Homo sapiens: one gene and its partner. The protein of the gene in region 2 interacts with the protein of the main gene of each other region in a pairwise test. Each region holds a gene or a part of one and is shown on either strand. Other genes may lie near its edges.

Evidence for each region. The genes of interacting proteins can lie anywhere in the genome.
Region 1: the proteins of CT45A3 (region 2) and SDCBP interact in binary tests that used the Homo sapiens proteins (3 or more experiments, as listed by UniProt).

Annotation. Positions count from the first base shown.
Region 1 is NC_000008.11:58,576,807-58,581,419, forward strand, and holds part of SDCBP (syntenin-1), read left to right. Parts: intron 1-1,226; coding exon 1,227-1,402; intron 1,403-2,816; coding exon 2,817-2,988; intron 2,989-3,710; coding exon 3,711-3,802; intron 3,803-4,613. UniProt on the Homo sapiens protein: Multifunctional adapter protein involved in diverse array of functions including trafficking of transmembrane proteins, neuro and immunomodulation, exosome biogenesis, and tumorigenesis.
Region 2 is NC_000023.11:135,758,816-135,763,203, reverse strand, and holds the end of CT45A3 (cancer/testis antigen family 45 member A3), read left to right. Parts: intron 1-847; coding exon 848-1,096; intron 1,097-1,476; coding exon 1,477-1,570; intron 1,571-2,794; coding exon 2,795-2,852; 3' UTR 2,853-3,160; downstream 3,161-4,388.

The DNA.
Region 1 (4,613 bases), on a different chromosome or scaffold from region 2:
TACATCTCTAGCTTAGTGCATCCAGCCTTTCCACATAGAAAATTATAAGTGTGGTGCACTGCTGTAAATGGAGGAGGCTGATCTTGGCAGGAGGCCCCCGCCCTGCCTGCCCACCCAGGGGGCTGAGGCCATCGATGATGGCCTTGCTCACTTGTATGTCACTCAAAATACATCTGCGTGCTTAGTTGGGATGCTCTGACTTTGCTGCCCTTTCTCCAGAATCTTCAGGGAATAGAGTATACTGCTGCTCCTTCCGCCAGGATTGCTCTTGTGTTCTTTCCTCTGTCCTAAAGAGAAAAGATACTTTTCATAGGCCCCTTGGCCCCACTGTAGGTAATAGTTGCAGTGGATTTGTTCACTTGGCCAAAGGGCATTTGTTCATTTATGGGGTGCTACCTAGTTCTTGCTTATCATTCTACAATGTAACAGATGTGTGATAGAAATATGTGACCTAGCTTAGGATTGTAGAAGTAGATGCACTTATATTTTACCAGGCTTATTCTTCTTTTATACTTACCTATTTATATTTTGTTCAACTTCTGATTGAGATTTTACATAAGTAAAAATATCCATGTGAGTGTAGTTATTGGTTAACAGTATTTGAGTTTTCTGTATTTATTTCATTGTGTGTTCTTTATAAGCCTGTGCATGTGGATTTAATATGCCCATCTTTTTAGTCTAACAAATAAACTTTAATCTTACTTGATTATACACAATTTAGCAAATGGGTAAAGGAATGCTTCAGCTCAAAAGGTAGAATTATGACCTTAAACTGTCATTTATTAAGCTGTAAAAGAACTCATCAAACTTTCTAACATGTGACTCGCTTTTCCCCTAAATATGATTATGTACTGATAATTTGGTATTCTATCAGACTCAGACGCTTGCATTTATTAAAGTTGTCCTACTGTATTTTCCTTAGTTTTGTATTCCAAGTTGAAGGGGGGGATTGTGGTTGGTCAGGTGGGTCATGATTTGGTATAGAAATTGCCATTGAAATCTCACTTTTTTGCCTTATTCTTTGGAGTTGCTGTCTTGATAAATTTTTCAGTTTCTTTTGAGGTGATAACTTAATATACTCATATAGTTTTTCCTTTTTTTCTTTTTCTTTCTTTTTTGTCACTGGGGTAGAGTTTTCAACATAAACAGTTGTTTCCTAATTTTCCAGCGTTTAAAACCGTATCATAGTAGTGGTAAATGACAAAAATTATTTTCTTATTATCTAGGGTATATTTGTTCAGCTAGTCCAGGCTAATTCTCCAGCCTCATTGGTTGGTCTGAGATTTGGGGACCAAGTACTTCAGATCAATGGTGAAAACTGTGCAGGATGGAGCTCTGATAAAGCGCACAAGGTGCTCAAACAGGCTTTTGGAGAGAAGATTACCATGACCATTCGTGACAGGTAAGCTGTTACTAAACAGCTCAAATGAAAATTCAATACTAGTTTTCCATTTTTTTGGGCTTTCAGAGTTTGTGAGTATATTATTTTGTTGCAGAAAATGATCAAATGTTATTGATGAGCCTTATAGTCTTGCAGTTGTGTGGTGCAGATTTTTCTTACATTGTTTTTAAAGCATTCTGATACGATACCTTATTTCAGAGTTTATAGGACAAATCTCTCTAGAAAATAGAAAACGTATGTTGGAGAAGTAACTGAGTTGCAGGGCATCTCTGGGCTCACTTTCCAACTTACTGCTTAGATACATCCAGCCTAGGGTGTTCACACACAGTGGTCCCTCATTGTGAGGGTCAGAGCCCATGCAGACTTCCAAGTAGTATGGGAGTTCTGAAAACCGTATCAAGACTTTTGGGTAGTTATGAAGCAGTAGTTTTCAAGAACATGGAATATTCTATTTAGCAGCTCATTCATTTAGAACTTAAACATTTAGCACATGAAATAGGGGCCTCCATTTATTTTCTTGTCTACTCCATACCCAATTAAGGGTAGACGTATATTGCATTGTTACAGTAAGCTTTGAGTTTTTGTTCCTTCTCAGTGAAACTTCTGTTTTATCTTTGTGTTTCCAGTTTCTCATTCAGTTTAGGTATTTCGTAAATGTTTCAGATGAATGTCCTTTTTACTTTCTATCTAAGCAGAGTTTCAAAGAGTAAGTTGTACTAACAGGAAGAAATGCCTCTTCTGAATTTAATAATGTAAACACAAGTTGATCCTAAAACCCTTATGATAACATGATAACAGAGTTTATAGAGAATCAAGCAAATGTGACTGCTATAACAACTCTAGAGGGACAGCTGGATGCCTTTTAATAATAGCTGCATGCCTCCCTTTCCAAAGGGGCTTGAGGAACTTAAGTCTTACTGCTGCTCTAGTTTTTCTTTTCAAAGATAGCAATGTATAAAATTTTCAAAATCAAGATGTGAGAAATATTTTAAAGGTTTTAAATAAAAGAAATAGTCCTAAAAATGATTTGGCTCTAGAAAATACCAAAAGTTAATAAAAAATAAAAATTATCTTTACCACTGTGATTTAGTTAAAAAGCCTATGTCATTCTTAATGCTGTAAAGTCTAATTATAAAAGAAAAACATATTGATAAAACCATATAAAGCAGTTGTCTTTTATACTTAAAGAAGGAAATGTTGATTAGTAAATCAGTCAAACCATAATGAATAAACTTAAAAAAAACTTTTACACAAAGATGTTCCGTGAATGTATAAAATCAGAGCCATAAGTTGCTCTTATTAGAAACAGTGTTTATTATAAAAGTATCCAATATGGCAACATTTATGCTATATGAAATCCATTAAAATGTTTAGCTTAGAATTAAGTTTTTAATTGAACCAATTATGTTTGTAGGCCCTTTGAACGGACGATTACCATGCATAAGGATAGCACTGGACATGTTGGTTTTATCTTTAAAAATGGAAAAATAACATCCATAGTGAAAGATAGCTCTGCAGCCAGAAATGGTCTTCTCACGGAACATAACATCTGTGAAATCAATGGACAGAATGTCATTGGATTGAAGGTAAGGAACAGACTTTGTGCCATGTTCTGCTGCAGTTTTAGAAAATGTCTGTCTTTTGACTGTATTTAGGTGGCGCTGTTTTCATATTGACTTAGGTGGGAGATGGGGAACGTGGGGCCTGAACTCTTGGTCTGGCCAGTCACCGGAATTATTTGGGCTGTCATCTAGAACTACAGTTCCTATAACAAGTGGGCTGGAATAAATGATCTCAGAAGTACCTCACACTAGAATTCTGTGGAAATATGGGCAACAAAGATTTAGAATATGAATAGTGGCCCAGCATTTCTCAATCCAGGAATATAAGGAAATGAATAATAGTTTTGGTTCATATTAATACTTTATTTTTATAGTTTTTCTCCTCCACAAATTCCTAAATAAGTCTGTCTTAAGGTCAAAAAGTTTTAAGCATGACCTCCTCATTTCATAGAATTTGATTTAGAATACACAGTTAATAAGAGGAGATGGTAATATTGTATATGGGGAAAATTATCTAATATTCAGAAAGGAAAAGTTTTTTTTTGGTTAAAATATTCAACTCAGTTTACTTAAGCAATTTGGTTACTAGCTGTAAAATAGTGTACAATTAAACTTGGTAAGAAATACTAGAAAAAATTAGAAATACCAAGACATATATTTTGTATTTCTTTACCAAGACTGGCATAGTTTTGTATTTATTAAATAAAGCCTCTGTGGAATTAATTTTTAATATGTGTTTTTATCAGGACTCTCAAATTGCAGACATACTGTCAACATCTGGGACTGTAGTTACTATTACAATCATGCCTGCTTTTATCTTTGAACATATTATTAAGCGGTAAGTAAACAATTCCTCAACTTAATGCATATGGTCATGTGACTTAATATAAGCACTATACTTTAATTCTCAGCCCTTTGGTTCTTTTACCCAAGGAATGGATACTGGTGTTTTATCTAGAAATTTGAAGTAAGTTATTTAAATCAGAGGGTTGGTAAGGATGAGCTCTTACAACTTCCCAAGTACGGAATAAAATTCACATATACTTTCCTCAGTTTTTATAATGCCTGGTAGAAAAAAGGTATGCAAGGAGAAGTGGGCATGCTTTCAGCTTTCAATTTGCAGTGCAATTGACTGCAGTTGCACTGCCTACCACCCCTCTGCTCAGTATAAATATAGTTGTGGTGGTTCGTAATGGAGAATTCTTGCTGGTGGAATGCTAAGAGTAAGTTTCCCTTCTCTCCAGAATCTCAAGAGGCAGATAGACAAGTGTGGTGTGTTGGTGCTATCTGTGCTCAGGAACTGAGGATTAGAAAGCCAAGTGATCAGAACTGAAAAGAGGCAACAAGGTTCCTTCTATAGAGCTTTTCATATCCTAGCATCTACCATAGCTGTTTTTGTCAAGCCAGCTTGGAATCCTTTCAGAAGCTCTATTATGCATGTGAAAATGAGATTTAAAAGATTCATAAACATAACCATTGTAATGAAATTTTTGTGTTGGCTTCTGGATAGAATGCACCTAGCTACCCTTGGAGGGGGTAAAAAGGAGTTATTGTCATGACTAATTTTTCTAGGGTTCTCTTTTCTTAAATCACTGATGGATCCCTCTACCCCAACTCATCACAGCCTTGTCATTTTCTTTCTGTTTTTT
Region 2 (4,388 bases):
CCCACAGGCCTGTGGACTGCTTCCTTACCACTAGCCCAACACTGTATGTTTCATTTGCTCATTGTGCACGTACTGTCTGACCGCCCCATGAGGATGTGAGCTCCACAAGGGCAGGGAACGTTGCTCTCTGGGCTGTTTACTGCTGATCCCCAGCTACCGGCACGCTGCCTGCCACAGACGATGAATAAATGAGAGGTGTCAGACCTGGAGTGAAAAGAAAGTCACTTTTGTGAGACAGAAAGGAAGGATGAGGAAAATCATACAGTAAAAGGGACTTTTTGGTGGTGGAGTGCGTATAGAACTTTTAGCAGTAATGGCCGCCTCTATTTTCTCAGAATGTGTTTGATATAACAGGAGACCGGTTGAGTTGTATCCCAGTTGCCTGGGTTCCAGCTCAGTAAAGCATGGCAGTTTGTAAGTGAGTTTGAGAAATCATGATATCAAGTGAGACTTGCTGCTTTCAACTTGTAAAGCATAACAAGCTGAAACTGTCCCATGAGTACCAGGGATCTGTGAATGTTGCTTTAGAGTTGTACTGCCTTACTTGGTTTCCATGTCTATTCATAGGGCCAGAAAATAAGAGGTGGTTTTATTGTATTATGTGTCCTGGCCTCCGTTTGTCAGGCCTGGGATTTCTCCCTGGTGTATCCTCCCATTTATGAAATAAATAATTCCCTAGAAACTGAGGAGCACATAGATGTACCCAGAGGGGTGATGAAACACACATATCTCACAGCTCAGCTTCTCAGTTTGATTTCCAGAGCTGTCATTCATGAGGTCTATGTGGAGGGGAAAGAAAGTGGTCAAACACCAACTGATGGCTTTTACTCAAAATCTGTTTCACCAGAGCTTATGACAGGACATGCTATTCCACCCAGCCAATTGGATTCTCAGATTGATGACTTCACTGGTTTCAGCAAAGATAGGATGATGCAGAAACCTGGTAGCAATGCACCTGTGGGAGGAAACGTTACCAGCAGTTTCTCTGGAGATGACCTAGAATGCAGAGAAACAGCCTCCTCTCCCAAAAGCCAACGAGAAATTAATGCTGATATAAAACGTAAATTAGTGAAGGAACTCCGATGCGTTGGACAAAGTAAGTAATATAAGAATGTCTGTTTTATAAAACTATAGGAAGTCTCTCTTTCTATGATTCAGAAGATATTCATGTTGCCTGTTGAGTTTCATTCTTTGCCAGAGTTGAGATTGCACATAATTTATGGTGGTTCCTCTTTTCTTTGACTAAAGCATGTACATTTTTTCTTTTTCTTTTCTTACTTGGTTATGGTTAAAGGAGTTACATTCGTATGTATGTGCAGGTGTCTTTTTTATTATTTAGGTTTTGTATGTGCAGGTATCTTGATTTAAGCATTTAAAACATTTCAGCCTCTGAAGCATGATTGCTGAGGTGTAGATTCACTTCTATTCTTCTTTATATTTGATAATACTGAAGTTTTTTTTTTTCAACATCTTCAGAATATGAAAAAATCTTCGAAATGCTTGAAGGAGTGCAAGGACCTACTGCAGTCAGGAAGCGATTTTTTGAATCCATCATCAAGGAAGCAGCAAGGTGGGTAGAAATAGGAACTGTCCAATTTCTTTAAGCACTTGGGCTCAATAGAGCACTGGGGGTGAGCGTTGGGGAACAGCCCCTGCCTTGCGTTTCTCAAACCCTGGTCCTCACTCACAGTTATGGCTGTCTCCACAGTTACTTAGGCTAATGTTATCTGAGTGTAACTCATTCTTCGAAGACTATGGAGACTTCCATTTTCACCATAGTCTGAGGTGCGCATTGTCCCTCAATTGACACTCTTTGTATTTGCTAGACTACCTCTTTTTAAAAAATTTGTGTAGGCACATAGCAGATGCATATATTTCTGGGCTATATGAGATATTGTGATACAGACAACAATGTGTAATAATCACATCAAGGTAAGTGGGGTTTCTATCACCTCAAGCTTTTATCCTTTGCGTTACAGAGAATACAATTATACTCTTCATTATTTTTAAATGTGCAATTAAATTATTACCGACTATAGTCACCCTGTTTGGCTATGAAATACGACATCTTATTTATTCCATACTTCTACGTATTAATCATCCCCACTTCCCACACCCTCCACCCCCACTAACCTTTGTAGCCTCTGGTAACTGTCATTCTACTCTCTATCTCCATTAGTTCAGTTGTTTTACACTTTTACTCCCAAAAATAAGTGAGAACATGTGAAGTTTGTCTTTCTGTGCCTGGCTTATTTCACTTAACATAAGGACCTTCGGTTCTATCCGTGTTGTTGCAAATGACTGAATCTCATTCTTTTTTTTATGGCTAAACAGTACTCTGTGGTGTATATGTACCATATTTTCTTTACCCATTCATGTGTTAGTGGACACTTAGGTTGCTTCCAAATCTTGGCTACTGTGGATGGTGCTGCAACAAACATGGGAGTGCAGATATCTGTTCGGTACACTGACTTCCTTTCTCTTGGGTATATACCCAGCAGTGGGATTGCTGGATCATATGATAGCTCCATTTTTAGTTGTTTGAGGAACCTCCAAACTGTTCTTCATAGTTAGTTGTTGTAGTAATTTATATTCTCACCAACAGTGTATGAAGGTTCCCTTTTCTCCACACCCTTGCCAGCATTTGTTATGCCGGCTAGACTGCCTCTTACCATGCAGATACATTTCTATTTCCATGCTGACTGTTACTTCATCTTTCTATCCATCACAGTGCTTCCTACAGCATAGGTTCTTTAGCTATCTTTTGGTTAATGACATGTCTCTTTCTTTTCAGATGTATGAGACGAGACTTTGTTAAGCACCTTAAGAAGAAACTGAAACGTATGATTTGAGAATACTTGTCCCTGGAGGATTATCACACCCCAAATGCATAATCTCGTTAATGATTGAGGAGAGAAAAGGATCAGATTGCTGTTTTCTACAATGGAGCAGGATATTGCTGAAGTCTCCTGGCATATGTTACCGAATCAAATAGCCTTCCAGAGGCTAAGAAATTTCTGTTAGTAAAAGATGTTCTTTTTCCCAAAGCATTTTATTTGAAAGGATAACTTGTGTTTTGGTTATTTTGTATTCCCACCTGTGCTGGTAGATATTATTAACCCATTAGGTAAATACTATTACAGTCGTGGTTTCTGCAGCAGCTCACAGTGTTGTAGCTGGTATTTATCACTACGTTCTTTCGCTACCCATTTCACATTCCCTTTGCCCTGAGATAGCATGTCAGTTGGTCATGATGCTTGGCCTGGCAGGATGACTCAAACCTTCATTACGGAAGAGTCTGAAACATTAGATGTCCTGCCTGGATGGGGTTGCTGTGATCTTCCATTAACTCTAATCGAAAAACACGGGAGGACTAAGAAGCTCTCTAGACATATCACACATACTCTTCCTTAGCCCCTGGTGTAGTGGGAACCCGATCTCAATGTTGAAATCTGTATCATCAGCCTTCAACGAAAAGGCAGAACTAATGGGAGATTTTAATGTGTGTGTGTGTATTTTACACACACATTAAAATACACACACACTTTAAAATCTCCCATTATACATGTAATGCACATTATACCTGTGTGTGTGTGTGTGTGTTGGTAGGGGGTATATATACCTACACACACACACTTTGTAATCTCCCATTATACATATAATACACATTATACACATTACACATATTACATATACACCCCTATTCATATATATATACCCCATATATATATATACCATATATAGTATATATATATATATGTGGTATATATACCATATATGGTATATATACCATATATATATGGTATATATACCATATATATATGGTATATATATATATATATATATATATATATATATATATGCACGTAGGGTGGTATATCCAATATATATAATAAAGGTAGTTCCTAGATAGGATTGGCCTGATAACAATAATTTGGAGCTTCAGTAGCAGTCCCTTTAAGACTGTTGTCTCCAGATATGACTTGCACATTCTATGCTTTTTATTTTATTTTTTTAAGACAGAATCTTGCTCTGTTGCCCAGGCTAGAGTGCAGTGTCACGATCACAAGTCACTGCAACCTCCAGCTCACCCCAGTTCAAGCGATCCTTGTGCTTCAGCCTCCCAAGTAGCTGGGATTACAGGTGCACCACAGGTGCCATCACGCTGCTAATTTTTGCATTTTTAGTGGAGATGGGGTTTTGCCATGTTGTCCAGGCTGGTCTCGAAACCTGGCCTCAAGTGATCTGCCCATCTCAGCCTCCCAAGGTGCTAGGATTACAGGCATGAGCCACTGCACCCAGCCCATTCTATGCTTTTTTTAAAATTAATTCATTCATTGATTCAACAAATATTAATTGTTCCAGGTACTTTTCTTTTTTTTATTATT